7 linked regions of the Homo sapiens genome follow. The protein of the gene in region 1 purifies or fractionates together with the protein of each later gene. This does not show direct contact. Each region holds a gene or a part of one and is shown in the gene's direction. Other genes may lie near its edges.

Region 1 (4,128 bases):
GCTGTTACCCTTGTACCTAAAGATGCCATCCTAATCCCCAGATCTCCACAACTATACCTACATAGTAGAAGGTTAAAATGTATCCCTCTTTTTCTGGTGCATCCAGCAAAAGTAATATCATGAATTATGAGCTCTCTGAGAGCAAGGATCATATCAGTCTTGTTTATTGTTGCAGTGAACAAGTACAGTTGCAGATATTCAGGAGTAATTATCTAAATGGCAGTAGGCTTATAAAACTGAATTTTCACCAGCCACACCCTCCCCCCAACTCCTTATCTGTAAAAAGCTTATTTGAGTGGTTACCTGTCTTCAGTAAAGATTGCGCTTGCATATTTGCTGTCATTGCATATTCTGCTTAATTAAGCTCTGTTGATATTGCAGTTTCTGTGCATACTTACATCTTAGATGCAATCTGAGGGCCTAGGAAGGCCTTTTAAAAATAAAACAATTCCGATTGCAGAGAAAGTGTAAGTCAAGGACAGTTAATTCAAGGGGAACATAGAAAGCTATTTAGATTTTAGTTGATGGTGCCAGTCTTCAGCGTAAAGTCAAAAGTGGAGGGAAGTTTAGTAAGGAAAAAATGTTGGGCTTGGAATACATTGTTTAGTCTTCAAAGCACTTTACTTTTTATGAAATATATTTTAGACATTCAGCAAATATTGAATACTTACTATATCAGGCAGTAAAGATATAAATTCATTCTTAAAATGTGCAACATGTTCAAACTGAAAAAAATACATTCTTAAACAGGAAACTTTTTCCTTCATACTTTTTAATTAACAAGACATATAAGAGTTGCATTAATGGGCGTGCTTATGATTGATCACCCAGCAGCATCATTAGAAATAATATATTTTATTCATGTGCAGAAATCTTTTGGTTGTCCTGGGGAACCTTGAACACAGAAAAGAGCTTTTATTGATAAGGTAATTGAACACACTTGACAATTAGCTTAATATGGTTTAATACCATTTGTGGGAGAAGATGAATCAGCCAGGCTCTTTACGTCAAGAATATGAAGTTTCTCTTGAGTCAACCAACTTAAGATGAGCTACGGAGACTGCAGTGAAAAGTTAAATATCCAAGTACACCAGCCAATTTCACACAGTGGAACCATGCTGTCCTCGGGCACCCTGCACCTCGCCCAACAGTCATCAACTAGATGGAGGCTCCTGGCTGCAAGGAGGATTTGATGGGAATGAGTAAATGTGTCAGCATAGTCCGTCCCTTCTAATGGAAAAGCAACCCAAAGAGCAAATCCTATTAATGGCTGGATCAGTATCATCTACTTGTCAAAAACATTCCATGAATTATGAGTCAAAATTTTATTTATGGTGGCATTACACACATTAAGAGATGAGGACTTCTGTTAGCATAATTTATTAGCTGGAAAAGTTGAGAAGGTTCTCTGGACTCATTTTTATAGGTGGAACCTAAGTGATCTGGATAATTGCCCACCAGCAAAATTGCTGGGCATGGTGGACAAAGAAAATGTTCCTTCTAATGATTTTTTATGAGCTGAGTAGCTATTGTTCCCAGCTGAGTGCTCTTTTCCTCTTTTTATTGTTGCTGAGCAAAAGAATTTATAAAAAGCTCTTTCTTTTGTATTAAAAACCCTGCTCAATTGAAATGCAAGTTCATTAAGTAATCTTCATTTCTCTTCCTGCCATAATAACCCTTTCCCTCTCTGTTCGATTCAACAGTATCTAGCAGCACTGCTCCAAATTTTAAGTCTGAACAGACTATATTACATAGATGTAGAGAAATACTCAATCTTCAGCATTAAGAGGGAGCTTAATTTCACACGGGTGGAATATGATCACTCAGGCTAGATGTTGGCCATAAATTTCAAATTAGTATCTCAACTTAGCAGGGGGGATCAACAGTGGCAAACTTCAATTATGACAGGATAAAAATCACATAGAGATATTGGTTCAATATGGACATCTAAACTATAATGCTAAAAGCCAATAATTAGAATAAGTTCATTTTAAGAAAAGCATTAATAATATTAGCTAACGTTTAGTACCTGTGCCAAACATTCTACCTATGTTACCTTGATTTTCATAGCCAGCCTAAGAGGTACTATTATGTATCCCCATTTTACAGGTTAAGAAACAGGCTCAGAGGAGTTTAGGATCTTTTCCAAGATTACATAGCCAGTAAGTGGTGGCACTAGGAACCAAATTCAGACTCTGAATCGCATGCTGTTTATATTATATTGCACTCATTCTAAATATGTGGGAATCAGAATGAAGGGGCTTGTATGACTTTTGGCTCATTTTTTGATGCATGTGACCTGGGATTATAAATGTGAAATTAGGTTTACGAAAGGATCCAGTGTCATTGTGCATCATGGGCAAGGAGTACCTAATCTCTTTAATTCTTCCCTGGAAGCTTACGATGTCCATCCAAGTGCACATAGCAAAAGTTCTGTTGTAAAGTTTAGCAGAGTGACTTTCTTTGACTCAGAGTGATGACGGAGGAAGCTTTGATAAGATTTTATCTGAAATGTTCATGGACAAGAGCTTTCAAGGAGAACATCCAGAGCAAGGTTCTGAAGACAGCTCATGAAGGTGAAGCAGCAGACCTGGCACAAGAAATGAAGAGAGAGCTCAGTGTATTAAAGATGAAAACAAGAAAACCGAATATATTGAAAGGAGCAGAGAGGCAATGAAAACAAGACAACTGAAATGAGGTAACTTGCAGCAATTGAAAGGGAATTTCAGTACTTTTATAGAATTCTTAAAAATTGTTTCCTGCTGTTTATTTTCAATTTTGAACAGGGTTATTTGTCCATGCCATACTTTTTTTGCCAAATTCCAAAATTGTGTATAGTTCTATAGTTGTCTGGTGGAGTCAATGGAACTTTAGTTACCAGTCTAAGAATGTGTCTTTGAGATTGTCCAGTTAATTCTCTATTTCCAGTAGCTGTAATAAATGGTGAAAAGGTTTCTGACTCCTGGAGAAAGTTTCTAACTCCTTATGACTAATATTCATAACAGACTTGTGAGTTCCTTGAACATGGATACACCTATATGCAAGAGTGTATTCCAAAGCTAACTCAGTGATCTTTCCATTTATCTATTCTTGGATTAGTGGTGCCTTTGCTCTTTCCTTCTGTAAATGTGAATAGTTAAGAGTTGACTGCAGAAGTGTTTACACTTTGGCTTCCATGCCTCTGGAATGTTTGTGCTTTGGTGGTGAGATGTGAGACTATATTTGTATAGTCTGCATCTCTCAGGCTGCCCCAGAATGTTGTACAGTGCAGTGCTGAAGAAAGCAGCAGGTACACACAGAAATGCAGCCTTTCCTGGTTAACCCTGCTTGGATCTGAGTTACACTTTGTTTCCTGACTTCTTGGGACTTAGGTAATCAGTTTGCCTTCTACTCTATCTCATTTTGTACTCGCTTACATACTACATTCTTGTTTGGGCTTTCGTTTCTTCTTGTAAGCAGAGATTTTTTAAAATCCAATATGTGAAAATACGGATGCACTACAATTAAATAAATAAAATGCTGTTGTGTTTGTTTTGCTTTAAAATTGTAAAGGATAAACAATAAGATAGTTTTATCTATGTGGTTTTCCCGATGCAGTTAAAATAAAACCTAATCTGCTAAAATTGAATTTACACTCAATTTTTCTGTTGTATAATTCTTGAAGAACACCTCATGTGTTGTACAACTTCATCTACATTGTGAACTCTTTTATTTATTGAAAGTCTATCTTAGTCTTTCACTTTTTCTACACTTCCCTTTACTTCCTCATGAGATGCTCAGCCCAGTTGTCCCTCAGGACACAGTATCGATTGGTTCACTTTTAAAAGCAACTGTTAGAAACCCAAATCATAGACATGTGAATTTTCTCAGAAGCCATTATTGAAACTTGGATTTTTACCTCTCATACCAAAATAAAGAAGGGAAAAAATAGAAATCAGCCCAACAATACTTTTAAATTGATTTTTATATTTATGTTGTAATGCAAATACCAAAGAAAAGTGCCTAGTTCCTTGGTTTATTTACTTATATCTTGCCTCTGTTATCTTCATATCAATTTTTGGCCTTAGCACTTTTGACTGCATAAAGAACTCTAAACATAGGCAATGGTAATAGAAATGCTGACACATC
Region 2 (3,500 bases), on another chromosome or scaffold:
GATTTTGTATGAGAGGATGAGGACACTGTTAATAGCTCCTCTTCTCTTTTCAGACTGTCAGCATCTCCCTACTGTATACATGCTTGATTAATGCTATTAAATATGGTAGGTTCACTAAAAGAATGCCTTTGTTGGTGCAGTTAAAATGGTAATTTGCATCACTGTGAGTAGATCAAAGTGAGCTAAAAAGTTGCAAGTTTCAGGATGATCATAGAGCAAGAATGGCAATATGGATTATTGTGGTGGATCTGCATGTAGACTATTAAATAATCAATATTCAAAAGTTCAAATCATCAGATGTGATACTGTTTTTGAGATGGAGTCTCACTCTGTTGCCCAGGCTGGAGTGCAATGGCGAAATCTCGGCTAACTGCCACCTCCACCTCCCAGGTTCAAGCGACTCTCCAGCCTTAGCCTCCCAAGTAGCTGGGATTACAGGCACTCGCCATCTTGCCTGGCTAATTTTTGTATTTTTGTAGAGGGGGTTTCACCTTGTTGGCCAGACTGGTCTTGAACCCCAGACCTCAGGTGATCTGCCCACTTCAGCCTCCCAAAGTGCTGGGATTACAGGCGTCAGCCACTGCGCCCGGCCAGATGTGATACTCTTGGATGGACTTAAATTCTGAAAAAGAGACTGTGTAGCCTGAAAATGCAATTTAATTTATTATGTAGCAGTTCTCTGCTAGAAACATCTTTCTCAAGTGCAATCCAGATTGATCTTTGTTTTGAATTAAGGACTCTTGCATCCTGATTTTTTTTCCCAGTGTCAAGATAATCTTGGCAAAGATTACTAAAACCAGAGTTGGAAAGTGCGTTGGTGCAGAAACCTCTAGCCAGAATCTCTTAGTGGTCTTGATAGGAAACATAAAGCTTTCCTCTTTTCCAGGGGTCATCTTCTGGGCCTTAAGGTAGACCCAGCCTAAAGAGTGTCTTCATTCTGCATTTGCATTTAGATAAAAGCTGCCCTTTGGGGAACAGGCTGGAGAAAAGAAATAAGGGGAATACGCTTACTTCACTTATATCTTAAAAAGTATAGTTTCTGTTTCTGGAAAAACAAAGAGCGTAAGTGTTTATACCCATGGAATAATATTCCATCTTTGAACCTGTCAGTATATTGTTACTGAAGGCTTAATCAGTTTTTATCTTTTTATAACTATGATCTAGGTCTAAGTAAGAGGCTGCCTGTATATATGGGTGTTTTTGCAGGATATTTATGGTAGAAGTTTCTGCATTGTTGTTTGTTTTCAATGTGTTTTTGAGAGCTTATCCTTTTTTCTTTGTCATCCACAGGTTCGAGAACTTGTCTTGGACAATTGCAAATCAAATGATGGAAAAATTGAGGGCTTAACAGCTGAATTTGTGAACTTAGAGTTCCTCAGTTTAATAAATGTAGGCTTGATCTCAGTTTCAAATCTCCCCAAGCTGCCTAAATTGAAAAAGGTAAGTGCTTTTTCTTTAACAGTAAAAGAGAACGATCCTGGGAAGGGAAAATGTATGATTTTACCTGTAAGGAAGCACTTAGTGTAGCAGAAAGCACATGGCCTTTGGAACTGGGCAGATATGGGATTGAATTCTAGCCCTAGCATTTCCTTGATGGGCAAACTTCTGCAGGTTACTTAATCTCTCTAAGGCCCAATTTCCTCACCTGTAAACTGGTGGTATTACTTGACCTTGCAGAATTGCTGTGAAGTTTGGAAATAATGCATGTTGGGTGCTCAATAAGTAGTAGTTAGGAAGAATAATTACTGTGTTGAGTAATTTATTTGTTAATTGTTATAAAAACAATTCTCTATCCTTTCGGAAAAAGGGACCAAATGCAACATAAAAATGTTTTCTCTTGTCACTGCACATTTAACTGTCACAGAGTCCCAGAATGTCAGAACTGGAAGAAACTTTGCTCCTCTAACCCAACCCCTTATTTTATAGGCACAGCAATAGTCCCAGGAAAGTGTAGTAATTTGCCTAAAGCCACCCACAGAAGTGGTTAGTACTAGAGCCAAAACTAGAACCCGTATCTCCTAACCCCATACCCTTCCCATTATATAGGAAAAGATATGTGGTTATATAAGTCTTGCAGAATTCTCTGCCATTTCAATATTCGCTTTACTAGGAAAGTTAAGTTGTACCTTTATTTAAACTAAGGCACACGTAGAAGGAAACTAATCAAACTTGGGCAAAGGTAGGTTGTGCCTAGAGCTTGCTTGAGTTCTGAGTGGGACAGTTAGTTTTTTGGTATTGGGGTTTGTTTGTTTGTTTGTGGTTTTACAGCAGGTGGAGTGGGTTAAGTATAATACATGAGGCCAGTCATGGTGGCTCACGTCTGTAATCCCAACACTTTGGGAGGCCAAGGTGGGAGGATCACGTGAGGTCAGGAGTTCGAGACCAGCCTGGCCAACATGGCAAAACCCCATCTCTACTAAAAATACAAAAAAATCAGCTGGGCACGGTGGCACGCACCTGTAGTCCCAGCTAGTCCGGAGGCTGAGGCACAAGAATTGCTTGAACCCAGGCGGTGGCTGAGGTTGTAGTGAGCCAAAATCACACCGCTGCATTCCAGCCTGGGCGACAGAGCAAGACTCTGTCTCGATTTAAAAAAAAAAAAAAAAAAAAAGTATAATACATGAATTAAAAACTGGAAGTATTTTTTGTTTTGCTTTCTTTATTTGCCTTGTTTAGGTAATATTAAATGCTCAAGCAGTCTTCGTGAGTTTCAGGTGACCGTTTCTGATGAGAAAGAAATTTCCCCTTCTAAGTATACTAGAGGTTCAAGTATAATTCTTTTATATTTGCATGGGTTATCAGTGACATTGGAAGCTCTGATTAGCCCAGTTAAACATAGTATAGCTTTTTAGCATCTATTTACATAAACTTGATGCTAGCAGATCCTTAGTGTGTGTTTTGTGTTGTTTTCCTAGCATTCTGATTTATTTTCCCAAATTACTGTTGGTCTCTGTACTCTCAGACTTATTCAGAAATTCAGCCTATCAGTGACCGTTTTTATAGGGACTTTAATAAACCTTTCAGAATTCTGAATAGAGCTTGTTTGAGTTCTGAGAAGGACAGGGTTTTTGTTTTTGTTGGTTTTGGGTGGGAGGGCACGTTAAGTACACAAATTAAAAACTTTTAACATTTAAAACATTAATCACTTCCCTTATAGGGCTAATGAGAGGGAATCATACTTAAAGGCAGGTTGAGTGTACTCATGATTGATAAGAACTTTATTTTCTTCCTATTCCAGAACACAAATTGGTTTTGTTTTGTTTTGTTTTTGAGATGGAGTTTAACTCTTGTTGCCCAGGTTGGAGTGCAGTGGTGCCATCTCGGCTCACTGCAACCTCCGCCTCCCAGGTTCAAGCGATTCTCCTGCCACAGCCTCCTGAGTAGCTGGGATTACAGACATGCACCACCACGCCTGGCTACTTTTTGTATTTTTTTTTTTGTAGAGATGGGGGTTTCACCATATTGGTCAGGCTGGTTTCGAACTCCTGACCTCAGGTGAT
Region 3 (4,256 bases), on another chromosome or scaffold:
GAAGAGGGACCTCGGCGATCCAAACTTGCTGATTCAGGTTTTACTATGATTCTGGGGTTATAGAAAACTGCTCTCTAAACTTGGCGCATCTTCTGGAAGATGTTGGAGGTGAGGTGGTTTAGTGGATAGTTAATAGGCTTAACCATCTGTTGATGTGAAATTGAGATATATTACTGAGTGCAATGCAAAATTTTATACACATTTAGCTTGCTTTGAAGAAAGACATTATTGGTAATGTTAACAGCAAAAAACAGCTGAGATTGAAAATTAGCGTGGGCTAGGTAACATGTTAAAGTCTTTATGTGTACAGTAGCCTCCCTTATCCGCAGGGAATACCTTCCAAGACTCCCCGGTAGATGCCTGAATCCTGGAATAATGGCGAACCCCACATATAGTTTTTCAATCTGATAACCAAGATGGCTACTAAGTGACTAAGAACCTGGTAGCCTAACAGCATGCATGGACAAAGCGATGATTCACACTGCAGATTTCATCAGGATATCCAGAATGGGCTTGCAATGAAACATTTGAATTGCTTATTTCTGGAATTTTTTACTTAATGTGTTTGGACCTTGGTTGACCCCAGGTAACTGAAATCAGGCTAAGAGAAGCCACAGATGAGGGAAGCCTACTGTATTTTCTTTTCTTTTCTTTTTTTGAAATAGGGTCTGGTTCTGTTGCCCAGGCTTTTCTTATATAATCATCACAAAATTAGCAAATAGGTACACTTAATGTTATTCTTATTATAAAACAGTATTTCGGAAAATGCAAATATTTCTAAAATAGCCCTATTCCCATCCCTATCCATAGGGTATTTTATCCTCTTCGCAGTGCTTTTCTCTCTCTTTTTTTTCCCCTTATTTTCTATGTTCCCCAAGCACCCCCTTCTGGGCATAACACAGTGCCTGCCACAAATAAGAAAAAAAGAAGTTCGGTAAACTTTTGGTCCAGTCAGTGAAGCACCTTGGACCCCATCACCAGACGGTAGGCGCCAAGAGAGCAAGAGTCAGCATGTTTTCTGCTAACCAGAGATTAGCACGATGCCTGGTACAAAGTAGGCGCCCAATAAATAGGTGAAGAAAGAAAAAAAATTAAAAAAAAGGAAGAGAGTGAGGGGAAAGGATGAATGAATGAAGACGTTTGCAGAGGGGCCTAGAAAGAAAGCACTCTGCAAGATTCTCCCTCCTGGTGGCATCAACTCTCAGTTCAAGGTCTATGTCAGCCCTTTCCTTGCCCAGACGCATTGGCCTACAGCAGGGAATGAAGAAAGAACAAAGTCTTTAAAAATGTTCAGAAGAAAGAGAAAACGGCAAGATAAAAGAGAGAAAAAAAAGAAAGAAAGGAACCACCTCCTTCGGGCGGACTAAAAAGGGAAGCCCCAGGAGGCCGGTTGCTAAGGCGACCCTAGGGCCAGAACGGCCCCAGCCCATTGGTTGAGACGCAGGAGCCAATGAGAAGGCGCGATGTTGACGGGGTCCTAAGATGGCTGCTGGGCGACCACTTCCTGACAGGTGAGTACGGCTTATGGAGGGTTGGTTACCCGCCGGTTCGGGCTCCGGCATGATGAGTCTGGGAGGGCCTCTTGTGGGCAGCCGAGGGAGGCGGCATGGGCGGCCTCATAGCTCCTCGGCCGAGCCTCCCGGAGCAGGCTAGAAAAGCCCCCGGCCCGGGGCCGCGGAAGCGACGGCGGGGCCGCCCTCAGCCTTCCTCGAAAGGGGCGTCGCAGCGGCCTCCCCAGCCTGTTATGTGGAGGGGGTTCTCCGTCCCACCCAGGTCAAAGTGAGAGGGGATTGAGGAGGCTGTCGATAGGGAAAACAGGCTCACGTTTACAGTTGCTGTATTCCGGAAAACAGCTCCAGTTAATGGGACTGCCAGCAGGCTAGACATCCTTCGCCGGAATGTGCAGCGCTTAGTTCTGTGCCCGGGAGGGGCTTCTCTCTCTTTTGGGATTGGAGTGTGGCATTGCCGCCAGAAAGCCTGCAGAATTCCGGGTTGTGCAGCCAAGCAGGAACGGTGTACCTTTCTAGACCCATCCTCTTGCAATCTTGGACCCTGTAAGTATTCTCACAGCGGAATCGACTTAAAATGAGCCTTGAACTGTTAACTTGGTTTATTGTCTTTCCATGCAGGATCTTGGGTCTGGGAAAATGTTTTCCAGGCCTCAAGTAAACGAACACTCTCTTTAATTAAAACAGTTGAATACATGCAAAATCTTGCTAAATAAGTAGTTTTTCTGGATTCGCTCTCAGGCCTGTAATTCAGTTGTCCTTTCTGTACCTTTTTTGAGAAAAGGAACACATTCATTTCATAAAAGTAAATAGGATATTTACGTTAATGTTGATGTTAACATGCTTGAAAATAGTAACTATTTTTAAGTCACAGACTCTGATTATGATGTAAATTACAATCTTCAGATTGTTAAATAATTGTGGCTTATAATTAGTATACAAGTGAAATTAATTTTAGATCAGACGAAGTTCAGGCTTCTGGAATTATTTCTAATCAAATACAAAATATAGGAAATAAGACAGCCTTATACGATGAAAATGGAATTTAAATTCTGGAATAGAGATGGAAAACATTTACCCATCGAGCTGCTCAAATATATCTTTTGGGTTTTGATTATAAGCAGCTGTCTGGTTGTCCAGAAAATATGACATTATTACTCAAACCTCTGACTGTGACTTTGACTTTGATGTATGCAACTTAGTATAGCATCTTGCATAGCTTTCTGTACTCAAAAAGTACAGAAAAAAATTCTTAACCAAATTTAACAAGTCTGTAATTATAGGCTAAGATCATTCTCAGCCCCAGTCGCAAATCCTTGTCCCCGCTTACAACTCTGCTCTGTAAAATTCATAATCTAAAGCCATGGGGCTATTTTTGTAAAACAAATGGATCAGAATGCATTAGGCAAGTCAGTTATCCCATCTGTAAATTGGGGGCGGGGCGGGTAGGGGAGGGGCTGATATAGATAGTAATTCCTAGTGGAAGGGTTGTTGTGAAGATTAGTGGAAAACCAAGGCCTGCCACACTGTTTGTATGCCATGTGCAGCAGTGACTTGCTTTGTTTCCCCTTTCTGGTTCTAGTGTTTCCTGTTGTAACTAGGGTTCCTTCCCCTTCTCAGTGTCCTGAAGTGTACAGAGTTTCTCTGAAAACATCCTCTTGGCTGAGTTGCTAGGTAGAGGAGAGAAACCTTATCTACTGGATACTGGGCTCTAATCAGGATTGCAGTGCTAGAGAGAATGGAGTGATACATCCAGGAGTGAGGTGACTCTGGGCATTTAGGGCACTTATAATATCAAAATCATAAAGAGGCATTTTAGAGCTGTAAGACATCTCAGAGATCATTTGATCAAACCTTTATTTTATAGCTTAAGAATGGAGGCCCAGACAAATGCAGTGGCTTTCTCCTAATTATGTTGCTCAGGACTAGAAACCATTTTCCAACTTTGAAGACTTTTTCCCCCTGTAACCAGTGCACAATCTAGAACGGTTTTTATTATAATTTGATTTCTCCCTGGCTGCTTTATTTTGAAAGATTGTGTCTACTCAACCTTATTTATGAATGTTTTTTTCTGATAAAAATCAGACCTATAACTACCAGTGAACCTCTGATTAACATGTGAAAAATAGTGCTTCACTAAATTGGTCTTTTCCTGTAATGATGAATGGTACAGTCTTACTGAGGGGAAAAATAAAATAGTTTGGGCTTTTTGAAATTAGCTTAGAGACTCCTGTTACTATATTCATACTTAGATTAGGAACCACTGAACTGTACCCTGTTTTTGATTCATTGTTATCTGACCAAGTATGCTAAATAATAACGATGGGTGGTTTTCAAGGGCAAACAAACAAACAAACAAGAAACCCTAGTTATTCAGACTAGGACAGTATATAAATATTTTCAGTTCATGGCAAATTGTGTTAGCCCAGGACTAAAGATGTGTTCTGCATAGTACACACAGAATGTCTTGAGGATAATTGTGGGATGGAATAAATCTTAACTCTAGAGGTGGAGGGTGTGTAAAATGAAGAAAGTGATATTCAAAACCATAGAGAGAAAAAGGATTCTGAGTCATTTACATTTTCCTTGGGGCTAAAATGATTAAATTGAAAATTATTTGGGTTGCAGGGTAAAAAAAATGAAAGCTTATGAATTAATACATTGGCTGTTATATGGACTTGGCTATAATCTATGCTAAACAAATTTAAGTTTCTGTTTCTCTGATATTCCACGTTTCTGGAGACAGGC
Region 4 (3,500 bases), on another chromosome or scaffold:
CTAGTGCCGCTGTTTTTACACTTTCCTGTGCATTGGAATCACCTGGGGACCTTGTGGCGCTACAGATCCTGGCTCAGTAGATCTAGGGTAGGGTAAGGCCTGAGATTCCACATCCTGAACAAGCTCCCGAGTGGCATTGCCAATGCTAACTCACCACCAAACTTTGAGAAGCAAGCCTCTAAGGCAGAGGTTCTCCAAGTGTGCTCCCTGGACCACCTACAGTATCAGCCTCAACTGGGAGCTTGCTAGAAATGCACACTATCAGGCCACACCTAGATATAGCCCTCCTGACTCTGAAACTCTGGAGGTGGGGCCCAGCCATCTGTTTAAACAAGCCCGCCAGGGGATTCAGATGCACCCTCAAGTTTGAGAACCCTTGTTCTGGAGCACTATTTGGCCATTTCCTGAGACGTAAAACACAAGAAGAAATGTAGGTTTGGGAGGTCCCAGGAACGATGTTGGCATAGCCAGAGAGTATCTCTTTCTGGCCAAACAGGGGCTCCCCTGATGATCTGAGGCCTTTTCCTCAGCACGTGTGGCCGCAGGAGCATGAGGGGACATAAAGGGGCAGCCTGACTCAGGCTGAACCTTGTGCCCTTGGATTCACCTTCCCACTCCCTGCTCAGCCTGGGTCCTCTGGTGGTCAAAGTGAAGGAGTACCAGGTGGAGACCATTGTGGACACCCTGTGCACCAACATGCGGTCAGACAAGGAGCAGCTGCGAGACATTGCCGGCATTGGCCTCAAGACCGTCCTCTCGGAGCTCCCTCCTGCAGCCACAGGTACCCAGGTCCCCAGGACTAGGTACTGTTAGTATTTGTCCTAGTTTATGGTAAAAAAACAAACGAAAAAACAAAAAAAAAACACTGAGGCTCAGAGAGTTGAAGAGACATACCTGAGGTCACTCAGCTAGTAAGCAGGGCAGAGAATTCAGGCCCAGCTCAGTTTAAGTTCATGGTTCTGTGTCAGGAATGCTTTTAGCTCAAGTGATGAAATCTAACTAACGGCAGTTTAAAGAAATCAGGGGTGGTTTTTCCTCACATGGCAATCCTGGAGGAATCAGCCACTCCATTTTTGTAGCAGTTCATTTAGTGGCTCAATGTTGACAGGGTTCCAGTCTTGCCCCATGTCCCCTCCCTTTATAGGGAAAGCACACGTTTTCCCAGAAACCCCCAGAGGACTTCCACTTATATCTCACTGGCAAGAGCTGGATCACCCAGCCACTCCCAGCAGCAAGGGAGGCAGGAAAGGAAGTGTTTAACTTTCCCTGCCTCCCTAGTGGAATGGGGAAAGGAAGAAGGGCTTGGGTGTGTGTAAGTCACCCAGAAGCTCGGCCATCAGCTCTGCAGCTCCCCTAGCTGTCTCCTTGACTTTGGCCAGACTCTGGGTCAAACCTGGGACCTCTGGAGCCCTGGTAAGATTCCCGGGGATGTGGGCTCAGGAACACAGCCAGAGCAGAGGCAGACTAGTGGTGGAGGCTGCCTTTCCCCCAGGCCAGGGCCTCACTGTGCCCACCTTGTGCCCTGTGCAGGCTCCGGGCTGGCCACCAACGTGTGCCGGAAGATCACAGGCCAGCTCACCAGTGCCATTGCCCAGCAGGAGGATGTGGCTGTGCAGCTGGAAGCCCTGGACATCCTCTCTGACATGCTGAGCAGGTGTGGGAGGCCATCCTGGGTATTGAGGAAGAGTGGGTAAAAGGGGACAGGGAGGGACTCAAATCACAGAGCTAGCACCTACTGCACACCAGGCCCTGTGCTTGGGGCTCCTTAATCATCCCAGCAGCCTCGTAAAGGAGAACTCAATTGTCACAATTTTACAGGCTCTGAGAGATGATGCGGTCAGTAAAACCTCCCATGACTTGAACACCTGCTCTGGCCAGAAAAATGTCAGGTGCTGGCCTAGTGTTGGGAACATGGGGTTAGATCAGTCTTGGTTGTTCTAGGGAGGAGTTCACAGACATGTATAAAACTGTGAATGGAGTAAGCACAACAGTAAGGATAAGAGCAGGGCTGATAGGAGCTCAGAGGAGCCCCCAGTCCAGCTGGGAGTGAGGAGCCTTCTAAAAGAGAGTGCTGCTAGAGCTGAGCCTTCGAGGAGGGGCAGGACTTAGCTGAGTTTGGGCAGGTATAAAGAGGATGCTGGAGGGGAGACTGTCCCCAGTCCAGAAGGCAGAGACAGGGGAAGACTTGGGGTCCCAGAGTCTGCCAGGGGTCGTGGGGCAGGCTGTAATGTGGAGAGGTGGGTATGCAGAGCTGAGGTGCAGGGCTGGCCAGGAGCCATGGGGCAGGGGTGAGTATTTGTGTGTTCTACCCTGATCTTTCTCTCTGCAGTGGAGAGTAGGTGGGAGGGGATTGAACAGGCAGGGGACTGGTTAAGAGGCTGCTATAGGGAAAGCAATTCGGGTTGTATTCAGGAGGGGGACTCCACAGGACTTGGAGTGGGCAGGGGAGGCAGGGACTGGAGGCTGACCCCTAGGGTTCTGCCTTTAGTAACTGGCGGGGGCAGACAGAGGTGCTGTGATGGGGTGCACTCCGGGAGCCAGCAGCAGGTGTGTGGGGAGGAAGGTGATGGATTCAAGCTGGGGCATGTTGAACTTGAGGCTCCTGGGAGGCACTCACTCAACCACACACTCCATGAGGGCAGCTCCCAGGATCAGTCTGTCTTGTTCACCCTGGCTTCCAGCACAGTCCCTGTCACTTAGCAGGTGAACAGGCAAACAAATGAAACCTAGGAGAGGGGGTTGGGTAGGACATAGAAATAAGGGAGGGTAAGGTCAGCGTGTTTCTGTAAAGTGAGAAAGAAAAGGTCTCAAGATGTTTACAGGACAGAAAATGCACGGGCCTCGTTTGAAGGTGTGGATAGAAGCTGCTGAGGCAGGCAGGAGCTGTGCTGTGTGCGCAGAAACCATTGTCTGGTGTTGCCTCTTGTCTTGAGCCCAGAGCTCAGCATCTCCAAAGGCACTAGGGAGCCATGGAAGGAGTTAAGCAGAGGAGTGACCAGGTGAGAAGTAGACTTTATACTGCTCTGGTCTCAGCGAGGAGGATGGACAGAAGGGGATGGTATTGAGGCAAGGCCTAGACTTCCAAGAAATAGGGACAGCCTTACTAGATCCTCTATGCTTTCCCCTATCAGGTCTTTCTCCCTAGGCTGGGAGCCAGGCTTTGCACTGCTGAGAAGTCCCTTTCTCTCTCCGCTTTCTCTCATGTAACAAAAGTAATTAAAATAATTCCTCCTCACAGTTGCAGGGCACCTCTTTTGCAAGGGCCATTGAGTTGCCATAATCCTGGGAAGGAGGCCGGGAGAGAATGGGGAGAGGGGCGGAGCCTGGCCCAGGTTGCCCGCGGAGTGCGATCGGCCTGATGCCCCCTCGTGCTCCCCAGGCTGGGTGTCCCGCTGGGCGCCTTCCACGCCAGCCTCCTGCACTGTCTGCTGCCACAGCTGAGCAGCCCGCGCCTGGCGGTGCGCAAGCGGGCGGTCGGAGCGCTTGGCCACCTGGCGGCC
Region 5 (3,500 bases), on another chromosome or scaffold:
GACCAGCCTGGGCAGCATGGCTGCCCATTTCCCCAGAAAAATGGAAAAATTAGCCAGGTGTTGGGGCATGTGCCTGTGGTCCCAGCTACTAGGGAGGCTGACATGGACGGATCACTTGAACCCATGAGGTTGAGGCTGCAGTGAGATTGCACCACTGCACTCCAGCCTGGGTGACAGAGACCCTGTCTCAAACAGCAACAAAAACAAACAACACAAGGGTATAGTTAGATTGGAGAGACCGTATATAAGACATGAAAAAATCTTAATACTTCAGTCGTTCCTTAGATGTTTTGGGTATCAAAATAATCTTCTCTTTGCTTTTCTTAACTCTCACAGTAATGAAGAAGTTAGTACTATTATTATCTCCCATTTTCCAGATGAGGAAATTTAGTTCCTGAGGGTTGAGGTAATGTTGTATCTTTTTCCTTTGTTCCCTGTGTAAGAATTATCTACCCTGGAAAGTAATTAGTAACTAATTTCTCTTTGTTTTTGTGTTGGTGGTTATTGTGTTATTCAAGAATGATGAGTGGTATTAAAAAGTTCACACCAAACCCAGAACCTCTAGTATATGCAGAAGCCATATAGGTTTTTGCTTGTTTTTTGAGAGGCTGCTTCTATCACCTTACGCATTTTCAGTGAGTTAAAATACCATCAGATAACTGTCACTGCCAAAAGAAGCCTGTGAAGACATAGCAACTAAATTATTAGCTGGGCCCGGTGGTGCATGCCTGTAGTCCCAGCTACTCAGGAGGCTGACGCAGGAGAATCGCTTGAACCCAGGAGGTGGAGTTTGCAGTGAGCCGAGATTGCACCACTGTACTCCAGGCGGGGTGACAGAGCAAGACTCTGTCTCTAAAAAATAAAATAAAAGGGCTGGGCACAGTGGCTCACGCCTGTAATCCCAACACTTTGGGAGGCTAAGGCGGGTGGATCACGAGGTCAGGAGTTTGAGACCAGCCTGGCCAACGTGGTGAAACCCCATGTCTACTAAAAATACAAAAATTAGCTGGGCATGGTGGCACGTGCCTGTAATCCCAGCTACTCAGGAGGCTGAGGCAGGAGAATCGCTTGAACCCAGGAGGTGGAGGTTGCAGTGAGCCAAGATTGTGCCATTGGACTCCAGCTTGGGTGATAGAGTGAGACGCTGTCTCAAAAAATAAATAAATAAATAAAATTAAAAACTAAATGTAGGCCGGGCGCGGTGGCTCACGACTGTAATCCCAGCACTTTCGGAGGCCGAGGCAGGTGGATCACAAGGTGAGGAGAGCGAGACTACCCTGGCTAACACGGTGAAACCCCATCTCTACTAAAAATACTAAAAATACAAAAAAAAACAACAACAAAAAAAATTAGCCGGGCATGGTGACGGGCGCCTGTAGTCCCGGCTCCTTGGGAGGCTGAGGCACAAGAATGGCTGAACCCGGGAGGCGGAACTTGGCAGTGAGCCCAGATCACACCACTGTACTCCAGCCAGGGTGACAGCGAGACTCTGTCTCAAAATAAATAAATAAATAAATAAAAATAAATGTAATGTGGTACTGTGGAACAGAAAAAGGACATTAGCAAACTAAGGAAATCTGAATTAAGTATGGACTTCAGTTAATAGTAATGTGTCGGCCGGGCACAGTGGCTCACACCTGTAATCCCAGCACTTCGGGAGGCTGAGGCAGTAGATTACCTAAGGTCGAGAGTTCGAAACCATCCTGGCCAACATGGTGAAACCCCCGTCTCTACTAAAAATACACCAATTAGCCGGGTGTGGTGGCAGGCACCTGTAATCCTAGCTACTCGGGAGACTGAGGGAGAAGAATCGCTTGAGCCCGGGAGGCAGAGTTTGTAGTGAGCCGAGATTGTGCCATTGCACTCTAGCCTGGGCAACAGAGCAAGACTCTGTCTCAAAAAAAAAAAATAGTAATGTGTCAATATTGGGTCATTAGTTGTGACAGATGCTCCATGCTAATGTAGATGTTGGTAATAGGGAAAAACTGGAAGAGTTTATTTTTTCTTACAAAGCACGGTGAAATAGAGGAAGAGTGAGTGGTGATATGAGTGAATTGGAATTATCCATTTCAAATCCTAGAGGTTAGCCTTTTTTAGGAAGCTATTGAGAAGTTTTTATGGTATTTTAAATTCTAAAAATACTAGGATGATGATTTTATTAATTTGGTGAGCATTTGCTAAGGTATTCAGATCAAGGTGCAGGGAGGGACAGGCAGTATGGGAAAATCATAGTTGTGTTCTGAAAGGTGTTATATTTTCTTTCTTTTTTTTTTTGAGATAGGGTCACCCAGGCTGGAGTGTGGTGGCACAGTCTTGGCTCACTGCAACCTCCGCCTCCCAGGTTCAAGTGATGCTCCCACCTCAGCCTCCTGAGTAGCTGGGATTATAGGCATGCGCCACCACAGCCGGGATAATTTTTGTATTTTTAGTAAAGACGAGGTTTCACCATATTGGTCAGGCAGGTCTTGAACTCCCTACCTCAGGTGATCCGCCTACCTCAGCCTCCCAAAGTGCTGAGATTACAGGCATGAGCCACCACGCCCGGACTTAGGTCTTATATTTTCTTTTTTTTTTTTTTTTGAAACGGAATTTCGCTCTTGTTGCCCAGGCTAGAGTGCAATGGCGCGGTCTCGGCTCACGTCAACTTCCATCTGTCCGGTTCAAGCGATTGTCCATCCTCAGCCTCCCAAGTAGCTGGGATTACAGGCGCATGCCGCCACTTCTGGCTAAGTTTTTTGTATTTTAGTGGAGATGGGGTTTCACCATGTTGCCCAGGCTGGTCTCGAACTCTTGAGCTCAGGCAGTCCACCCGTCTTGGCCTCCCAAAGTGCTAGGATCACAGGCGTGAGCCATCCGGCCCAGCCCAGGTCTTATATTTTCATAGAGAAAATAAGATAGGATTTTGACATGTCCCTGTTACTCTTTGACCACTTTCTTGCATTTTGGAAGAAGACGTTTCAGGCTCATCTTGTACTTTTCATGCCCTAGCTGTGGGCAGGGCAGCTTTTCCTGTTGTAGCCATTTCTCCAAAGAGCCCCAGTTCCTTTTAGTTGAGAATGGTATTTAGGGCCAGAAGTGGTAGCTCACACCTGTAATCCCAGCACTTTGGGAGGCCAAGGCAGGAGAATGGCTTGAGCCCAGGAGTTCAACACCCTTGACAACTTAGAGAGAATGCCTCTCTACAAAAAAATTTTTTAAAAGAAAAATCAAGAATGGTATACAATCTATATTTCTGTATATCTATACATACTGAAAATCACAAGTTTATATTGATATCTCGTATTTCCAGTTCATCCCACAGGATTCATTATTTTCTTCCTTTTCATATGTATACCTGCCTTCTTAACCTGCTTGGGCTATGGTACCCCACAACAGGCTGCCCTTTGTCAGAGTATACTCTGACACTCCATGCCAGGCTGCCTTCCTTGAGAATCTCTCTCTTGCTTAGGCTCTAAAACCTTGTTCTCGGGTGTCCAGGTGTATAGACGTTCGCCTCATCT
Region 6 (4,145 bases), on another chromosome or scaffold:
GAATTTGGGGGCTGGGTGCGGTGGCTTGTGCCTGTGAGCCCAGCACTTTGGGGGGCTGAGGCGAGCAGATCACCTGAGGTCAGGTGTTCGAGACCAGCCTGGCCAACATGGCGAAAACCGGTTAATATAAAAATTATATTAACACGGTTAATATAAAAATTAACCGGCCACGGTGGCATGCACCTGTAGTTCCAGCGGGAGGCTGAGGCAGGAGAATTGCTTGAACCCAGGAGGCGGAGGTTGCAGTGAACCAAGATAGCATCACTGCACTCCAGCCTGGGTGACAGAGCGAGACTCCGTCTCAAGAAAAAAAAAAGAATTTTGGTTTTGGTTTACACCACTCAAAAGTGCAGGAATTCCAAAACAAGCCGGTCGGGGCACAGTAGAGCACAGACTCTGGCTCCTCCATCCGCCCGCACCCCACCCTGTGAAAGGAAAATAAATCTCAAAACCCCACAATCACTAAGTCAAAGGAAAAAGTCAAGCTGGGAACTGCTTCGGGCAAATCGGCCTCCCGTCTTATTCCTAAATAAGATAGTTACAAATACATATTTTTAAAGCTACACACCTCCCTCACAATTTGCCCACAAAGAAATTCTCTGTGGGCCTCAAGATCTTTACCCTAAAACAGTTCTGTTGAATTTCACCCTGGCAATGCAAATTGATAGCTTCCCTTCACAGGTGCGAGACAAAGGACTGAACTCAAAGCCATCCCTCTGCTCACCTAGACAAATGCATATCTGATCGCTTCCTTTGCTCTACTGTTTACGTAGAAATGAAGATTCAGTAAGCCAGACTAAAGCATAAGCGACTATTCCTCTACCCGCGTCTCACATGCATAATAAATTGTGCAGTCAGCGAAAGGCTGAACAAAGACTCAAAAGAATGCACCCTCCGGTCTCTTCTCTACCTGTGACCTGAAAGCCCTCTCCTGGAATTGTCCAGCCTTTCTGGGCTGAACCAAGGTACACTCGCACGTGTTGATTGATGTCTCACGTCTCCCCAAAATGTACAAAACCAAGCTGCATCCCAACTTCCCTGGGCACCATCGTCACGATCTCCTAGGGTTGTGACACTGGCGTGTCCTTAACCTTGGCAAAATAAACTTTTTACATTTCATTGAGTCCTGTCTCAGATATTTTTGGGTTCATAACCCCCACCCTCACCCCTACCCGCGGAGAGAGCGAGCCGCTCTCCAGCCCCTCCCCGGCTCTACGCAGGAGAGGCCACTCTCCTCTATGGCACGCGCGGCGGCACTCTAGCAGCCAGGTGGCTTCTCTATGGGCTTTTCCGGCACAGGTCGGAAGTGGCGCGCGCTGCCCCGGAAGCACCCTGGTGGGTGGGTGCCTGCCAGCAGCTGAGGCGCCATGGCGGCGGCAGCGGTGTCAGAGTCTTGGCCGGAGCTGGAGCTGGCTGAGCGCGAGCGGCGGCGGGAGCTGCTGCTGACGGGGCCCGGGCTGGAGGAGCGAGTGCGGGCGGCGGGTGGGCAGCTGCCGCCGCGGCTTTTCACCCTGCCGCTGCTGCACTACTTGGAAGTGAGCGGCTGCGGGAGCTTGCGCGCGCCGGGGCCTGGCCTGGCGCAGGGCCTGCCGCAGCTGCACAGCCTCGTGCTGCGGCGCAACGCGCTGGGGCCCGGCCTGAGCCCCGAGCTCGGGCCGCTGCCTGCCCTTCGGGTGCTCGACCTGTCGGGCAACGCGCTGGAGGCGCTGCCGCCGGGCCAAGGCCTGGGCCCCGCCGAGCCGCCGGGCCTTCCGCAGCTGCAGAGCCTCAACCTCAGCGGCAACCGGCTGCGCGAGCTGCCAGCCGACCTGGCGCGCTGCGCCCCGCGCCTGCAGAGCCTCAACCTCACCGGCAATTGCCTAGACTCCTTTCCCGCCGAGCTCTTTCGCCCCGGCGCGCTGCCCCTGCTCAGTGAACTGGCGGCTGCTGACAACTGCCTCCGAGAACTCAGCCCCGACATCGCCCACCTGGCCTCGCTCAAGGTCAGCGGGGGCTGCCCGGGCGGGGCGGGATGGGGCCTTGGAGTAGCCCTGGAGAAGGAACCCCTCTCGGGGCCGAGCAGTTCCTAGTGACGCCCCCTGGGGCACTGGGCCCAGGGAATTCCTACAAGGCTGAAAGGAGCCAGCTGCGGGGGGCATCACCCCTGGGAAGCAGATGCCGCCTTCCAACTCCCCCTTCTCCTGGCCACACCAACATACTAGGTGGCCTCTGAACTCCCCCGCATTCTGTTAACTGGACTTTTACACGTGGTACGCTATTTTGTAATTGTTAGCAAACCTGGCTTCTCCTGTAGATCGAGCGTAGAGACCTGTCTTTTTTGTATCTAGTACTTGTGAAGTGACTTGAGAGTGAGTCTGGTGGTGAAGGGGGCACCCTGGATTTTGCATAATGCCACATGCTGTGATCTTGAAGATTATATTTCACTTCATCCTAATAGCAGCTTTCCAAGGTAGGGGTGGTTATTCCTGTTTTACAGAAAGCCAAAGGGCCTGCCCAAAGTAAGCAGCAGGTAACTTGGGTTTTTCTCCAGACTATATTGTCCAGCGTCTGTTTACTAATTAATCTTGGATCCCCAGGCCCCGCGATAATGCTTGGCCTATAACAGGTGCCCATTGAATCTGTTGCCTAAAAGAAAGTAGGGAAGCCACATGGCAGAACCACGACCTAAACCCAGCCAGATGTTCTCTCCATCTTCTCTTTTGGTTTCATCCTTAAGGCAGTCCTGCATTTCTTCCCCCATTTTTCGTCTTTGAATTTATGCAGACATTTCTTTTTTTTTTTTTTTTTTTTGAGATGTAGTCTGGTCCTGTCACCCAGGCTGGAGTGCAGTGGCGCGATCTCGGCTCACTTCAACCTCCGCCTCCCGGGTTCAAGCGGTTCTTCTGCCTCAGCCTCCTGAGTAGCTGGGCTTACAGGCGCACACCACCACGCCCGGCTAACTTTTGTGTTTTTAGTAGAGACGGGTTTCACTGTGTTGGTCAGGCTGGTCTCGAACTCCTGACCTCATGTGATCCGCCTGTCTCGGCCTTCCAAAGTGCTAGGATTACAGGTGTGAGCCACCGCGCCTGGCCTATGTGGACATTTCTTAATAAAATACGTATACACTTTAGCAGCTTATCTATTTATTTGCTGTAGCAATTCCTCAAGACATTGCAACTCATTTTACAAGTAACATATCTATATAAGGATATATAGACAAACCCTGGCCGGGCGCGGTGGCTCACACCTGTAATCCCAGCACTTTGGGAAGCTGAGGCGGGCAGATCGCTTGAGGTCACACCACCAGCCTGGCCAACATGGTGAAACCCCATCTCTACAAAAATACAAAAATTAGCTGGGCCTGGTGGCGCGTGCCTGTAGTCCCAGCTACTCGGGAGGCTGAGGTGGGAGGATCACTTGAGCCCAGGAAGTGGAGGTTGCAGTGAGCTGTGATACCAGCCTGAACAGAGCGAGACCCTGTGGCAAAAAAAACAAACCCACTGTAGAGTGACACATGGTTACTGATGTAACTGCCCAATGGGTTCATTTTATCCACTACCCGGATAGAGCTGATTTATCAGGGCAGGAGGGTTGCAATAGAGAAAGTTTTACACATGTAGAGCCAGCTAAAGTGGAGACTGGAGTTTTACTGTTATTATTATTGTTGTTTGAGATGGAGTCTCGCTCTGTCTCCCAGGCTGGTGTGCAGTGGTGCAACCTTGGCTCACTGCAAGCTCCGCCTCCCGGGTTCACGCCATTCTCCTGCCTCAGCCTCCCGAGTAGCTGGGACTACAAGCGCCCGCCACAACACCCAGCTAATTTTTCGTATTTTTAGTAGAGATGGAGTTTCACTGTGTTAGCCAGGATGGTCTCGATCTCCTGACCTCATGATCTGCCTGTCTTGGCCTCCAAGGTGCTGAGATTACAGGCATGAGCCACCGCGCCCGGCCGAGTTTTATTACTAAATCAGCTTCCCCAAAAATTTGGAGGCGGGGTTTTTCAAGGATAGTTTGGGGAAAGGGGAGGGTGGCTAGGCAACGGGTGCTTGCTGCTGATTGGTTGAGGTGCAATCATAGGGGTGTGGGAAACGGTCCTGCTTACTGAGTCACTTCTGGCTGGGGCTGCGGGGAGCTCTTTTTGGTTTCAGGTAGAGCCATTGATCAGAC
Region 7 (3,500 bases), on another chromosome or scaffold:
GTGCAGTGGCGTGATCTCGGCTCGCTGCAACCTCTGCCTCCTAGGTTCAAGTGATTCTTCTGCCTCAGCCTTCTGAATAACTGGGACCACAGGCATGCCATCATGCCCAGCTAATTTTTGTATTTTTAGTAGAGATGGGGTTTCACCATGTTGGTCATGCTGGTCTTGAACCTGTGACCTCAAGTGATCCACCCGCCTCAGCCTCCCAGAGTGTCAAGATTACAGGCGTGAGCCACTGCACCCGGCCAGCATTTTTAGATATAGGAATTTTGGCTACTTTTTAAAAATATGAATTATATATTCTTTTTAAGTAGAAAAGTATTTTAATGAATTCATGATTGCCTTCTTCCCTGAAAAATTCTAAATGATCATTTAATCACATCTGAAATGTTACACTCTGTGGGATAAACATTGCAGCCAGTAGCATTGCTCTGAGCTGTTTGACAGGTACTGAGCACCACCTTATTAAATTAGGATTCCAAGGGGAATTTTAATAGGCAGCATATAATTACCAGACTTAGAATTAGACCAAAGAGCTAAGGTTAATACCCTGCTCTTTTGAAATATACCCTGAGAAGTTTAGTAACTGTTTGAGGACAAGATCTTGAGTTTAAAAAAAACCTTTCAGCAATACTAGCATATCTTAACCTTGGGCCTAACTGCTCTGAAGAGAGGCATGCCATCTACTGTCTGTTCCTTACTTATAGCATTTGAGGTTTCTTGCAGAATTTTTGTGGCCTTAGGACTTAACTTTGCTTAAAATTTAAAAACCTTACTTAAGGTAAAATGTTGGGACAACTTACTTTGTTGATGATGTTGGGAAATAAAATGATTGTTAGCCATTTAGTTGACTTCAATATGATATATTAAAGGATTTGTTGAAATCTTAAGTGCCAGACTTTGTTCCAGGTGCCCTGTTAATACAAATCATAATGGTCCCTGTTCCCACAAGGTTCACTAGCTTTATGAAGAAGACAAAATATACGTATTTATTATTGTGAGGCTGAATTAAGCGCCTTTCCTGTTCCGTGTAGGTTACCTGAGAGCCACAAAGAAAGAGTTTGTCTGAGAACTTGGTACTACCCCCAACAAATAAAACATCTATATGCAGCCAAGGCACAGATCTTAAAGCATATGTGCTGACATTTTAGCAAACCTTTTTATCTTGTTTTCAAGTTCATAGAAGTTTGGAAGGAGCACATTAGGTATAAATGTGTTTGTTCTGCAGATATGCTAGGGAGTTCATGGGATTACAATAACCTGATACTAAGGAAAAAGACCAGAAAGTGACAAAAAGCAGGCACAATGCAAAAATCATAGCCATCTTAATGAAATTAAGCAGACTTATATATTTGGACATAATCCATTCATATCACTGTATTACATTACAGTTCAGTGTTAATAGTGGTAAAAAGTTCCAGAATGTTTAGATTATGTCAGATAACAAAATATTTAAAATTTCACTTTTTCCTAGGCTCCTGTAGTTGAGTTTCTTGTGGCTGTGATAAATGCCAGGAAGAACAAAGTAACAAGTACCTTGGGGAATTATGGAATGAGAGATTACTTTTGGTTGGTTTTATGTTTCCATAGCTTATTTCTGCCTAGGATTTGTACATAAATTTTGTCTATAATTTCATTCTGTATATCAAGTTTTTTTAGTTCACAATTGAATGTGTAGAGTGTAACATTTGAGTAAATTATAGTTGTCTGCTTTTTAAATACAACTCTTAGGTGCTAAAAGGGATCAGTACCAGTGAAGGATCATATGAAGATCAAAGTAGTACTTAATTTAGTTTTTACTTTGAGAACTTTTAAATGTGTCATTCACCCGCTTTTAAAATCTAGAACAAATGGATCTTCACTGTTCCATGATCATTTTTGTGTCCTATTTGTTCTGTTGCTTACTCCTTAAAAAGTGATTTTTAAATCTTTTCCCTTTTTTCCTTCCATGTACTCCTGTCACTCCTAATGGTTAGCTTCGTTTCTTATTTTCCTGTAGAAGTTAAAAATATGTAAATGTGAATTTTCTTATTTTCCTCTTCTCCATATTAGGGGATAGTAGTATTTATTTGTATTTTTAATTTCCTCTTCAATGAAGAGAGGTAGCCCCTCTCATTCTGTGCCTCTAGTTATTTCTGACACTTCATCTAATTGTCCTTACTCACAGGTTGCTTCCCTCTGTCTCTCAACCTTGAGTTTTTCTCAATCTTGAAGAAAACCTTTACTTTTTCTTGCTCTGTTATTTGCCTGTTTGTGTTTTCTTTTCTACTGCTGAATTTTAAGAAAAAGTTTTCCATACCCACTGTCTCTATTCTGTCACTATCCACTCTTCTTACTGCCTTGAAATCTAATTCCTAATATTATTTCTGTATTCTTTTTTATTGAGACAGTCTCGCTTTGTCACCTAGGCTGGAGTGCAGCGGTGCAATCTCAGCTCACTGCAACCTCCACCTCCTGGGTTCAAGCAATTCTCCTGCCTCAGCCTCCTGAGTAGCTGGGACTACAGGTGTGCACCACCATGCCTGGCTAATTTTTTTTTCTTTCTTTCTTTTTTTTTTTTTTTTTTTTTGAGACGGAGTGTTGCTCTAGTTGCCAAGGCTGGAGTGCAATGGTACCATCTTGGCTCACCACAACCTCCACCTCCCAGGTTCAAGCGATTCTCCTGCCTCAGCCTCCTGAGTAGCTGGGATTACAGGCATGCGCCACCACACCCAGCTAATTTTGTATTTTTAGTAGAGACCAGTTTTCTCCATGTTGCTTAGGCTGGTCTCGAGCTCCCGACCTCAGGTGATTCACCTGCCTCAACCTCCCAAAGTGCTGGGATTACAGGCATGAGCCACTGCACCCGGCCCTATATTCTTTAATGTCAGTGGTGACCTCCTGATTTCCACATCCATTTGTCTTTTCTCAGTACCCATTTTCTTTGATTTCTCTGCACTATTATGAAAAATAATTGCAATGTTAAAGAAGCAGCTGTGTTGTAGTGAGCTGCACTGAGTAAACAAGAAGTCTAGTTCATGAAATAATTGAAAAACAAAAGAAGCGATTTTATACAGGAAGGTCTTGAAAGAAATAGAGTCTGATCTGTGTTTGGAAGTGGGGAAAAGGTGAAGTGATTATAAAGATATTCCTGATGGCAAGAATGCCCACTTTGAGGACACTGTTTGAAATAGAGCATTCTTGAGTTGGATGCAAGAAAGTACTGGGATCAGATAGCAGTAAATTATAAGTGTTATTCAAAGACATTTAACTTTTTATTCTATAGGTCACTATTTCCAAAGTGGGTAAAATATATTAAGTGGTACACAATGTTTTTAATTTAATCATTATGTATTTATGTTAATGGAAATTAAGAAAATATAGGTAGCACATCAAATTCAGGACTTAATGGCTATTGCTTATCCTAACTAAATGTATTTGAGTTTAAAAAAATGTTAAAAAAAGACTCGCTAACAGTTATTGATGGCTCATTATTTATCAGGCATTGTGAAAATGTTTTA

The links.
Region 2: the proteins of DNAJC15 (region 1) and ANP32B purify together in Homo sapiens (affinity purification with mass spectrometry, with the first as the bait; one large-scale study listed by BioGRID). This does not show direct contact.
Region 3: the proteins of DNAJC15 (region 1) and FAM204A purify together in Homo sapiens (affinity purification with mass spectrometry, with the first as the bait; one large-scale study listed by BioGRID). This does not show direct contact.
Region 4: the proteins of DNAJC15 (region 1) and CAND2 purify together in Homo sapiens (affinity purification with mass spectrometry, with the first as the bait; one large-scale study listed by BioGRID). This does not show direct contact.
Region 5: the proteins of DNAJC15 (region 1) and TIMM17A purify together in Homo sapiens (affinity purification with western blotting; one study listed by BioGRID and IntAct). This does not show direct contact.
Region 6: the proteins of DNAJC15 (region 1) and LRRC47 purify together in Homo sapiens (affinity purification with mass spectrometry, with the first as the bait; one large-scale study listed by BioGRID). This does not show direct contact.
Region 7: the proteins of DNAJC15 (region 1) and PJA2 purify together in Homo sapiens (affinity purification with mass spectrometry, with the first as the bait; one large-scale study listed by BioGRID). This does not show direct contact.

The regions. Positions count from the first base shown.
Region 1 is NC_000013.11:43,110,586-43,114,713, forward strand, and holds the end of DNAJC15 (dnaJ homolog subfamily C member 15), read left to right. Parts: 3' UTR 1-3,628; downstream 3,629-4,128. UniProt on the Homo sapiens protein: Negative regulator of the mitochondrial respiratory chain. Prevents mitochondrial hyperpolarization state and restricts mitochondrial generation of ATP. Acts as an import component of the TIM23 translocase complex. Stimulates the ATPase activity of HSPA9.
Region 2 is NC_000009.12:97,993,341-97,996,840, forward strand, and holds part of ANP32B (acidic leucine-rich nuclear phosphoprotein 32 family member B), read left to right. Parts: intron 1-1,290; coding exon 1,291-1,440; intron 1,441-3,500. UniProt on the Homo sapiens protein: Multifunctional protein that is involved in the regulation of many processes including cell proliferation, apoptosis, cell cycle progression or transcription.
Region 3 is NC_000010.11:118,339,525-118,343,780, reverse strand, and holds the start of FAM204A (protein FAM204A), read left to right. Parts: upstream 1-1,456; 5' UTR 1,457-1,511; intron 1,512-1,853; 5' UTR 1,854-2,054; intron 2,055-4,256.
Region 4 is NC_000003.12:12,806,680-12,810,179, forward strand, and holds part of CAND2 (cullin-associated NEDD8-dissociated protein 2), read left to right. Parts: intron 1-626; coding exon 627-781; intron 782-1,530; coding exon 1,531-1,654; intron 1,655-3,379; coding exon 3,380-3,500.
Region 5 is NC_000001.11:201,958,503-201,962,002, forward strand, and holds part of TIMM17A (mitochondrial import inner membrane translocase subunit Tim17-A), read left to right. Parts: intron 1-3,500. UniProt on the Homo sapiens protein: Essential component of the TIM23 complex, a complex that mediates the translocation of transit peptide-containing proteins across the mitochondrial inner membrane.
Region 6 is NC_000001.11:3,793,699-3,797,843, reverse strand, and holds the start of LRRC47 (leucine-rich repeat-containing protein 47), read left to right. Parts: upstream 1-1,345; 5' UTR 1,346-1,367; coding exon 1,368-1,982; intron 1,983-4,145.
Region 7 is NC_000005.10:109,371,975-109,375,474, reverse strand, and holds part of PJA2 (E3 ubiquitin-protein ligase Praja-2), read left to right. Parts: intron 1-3,500.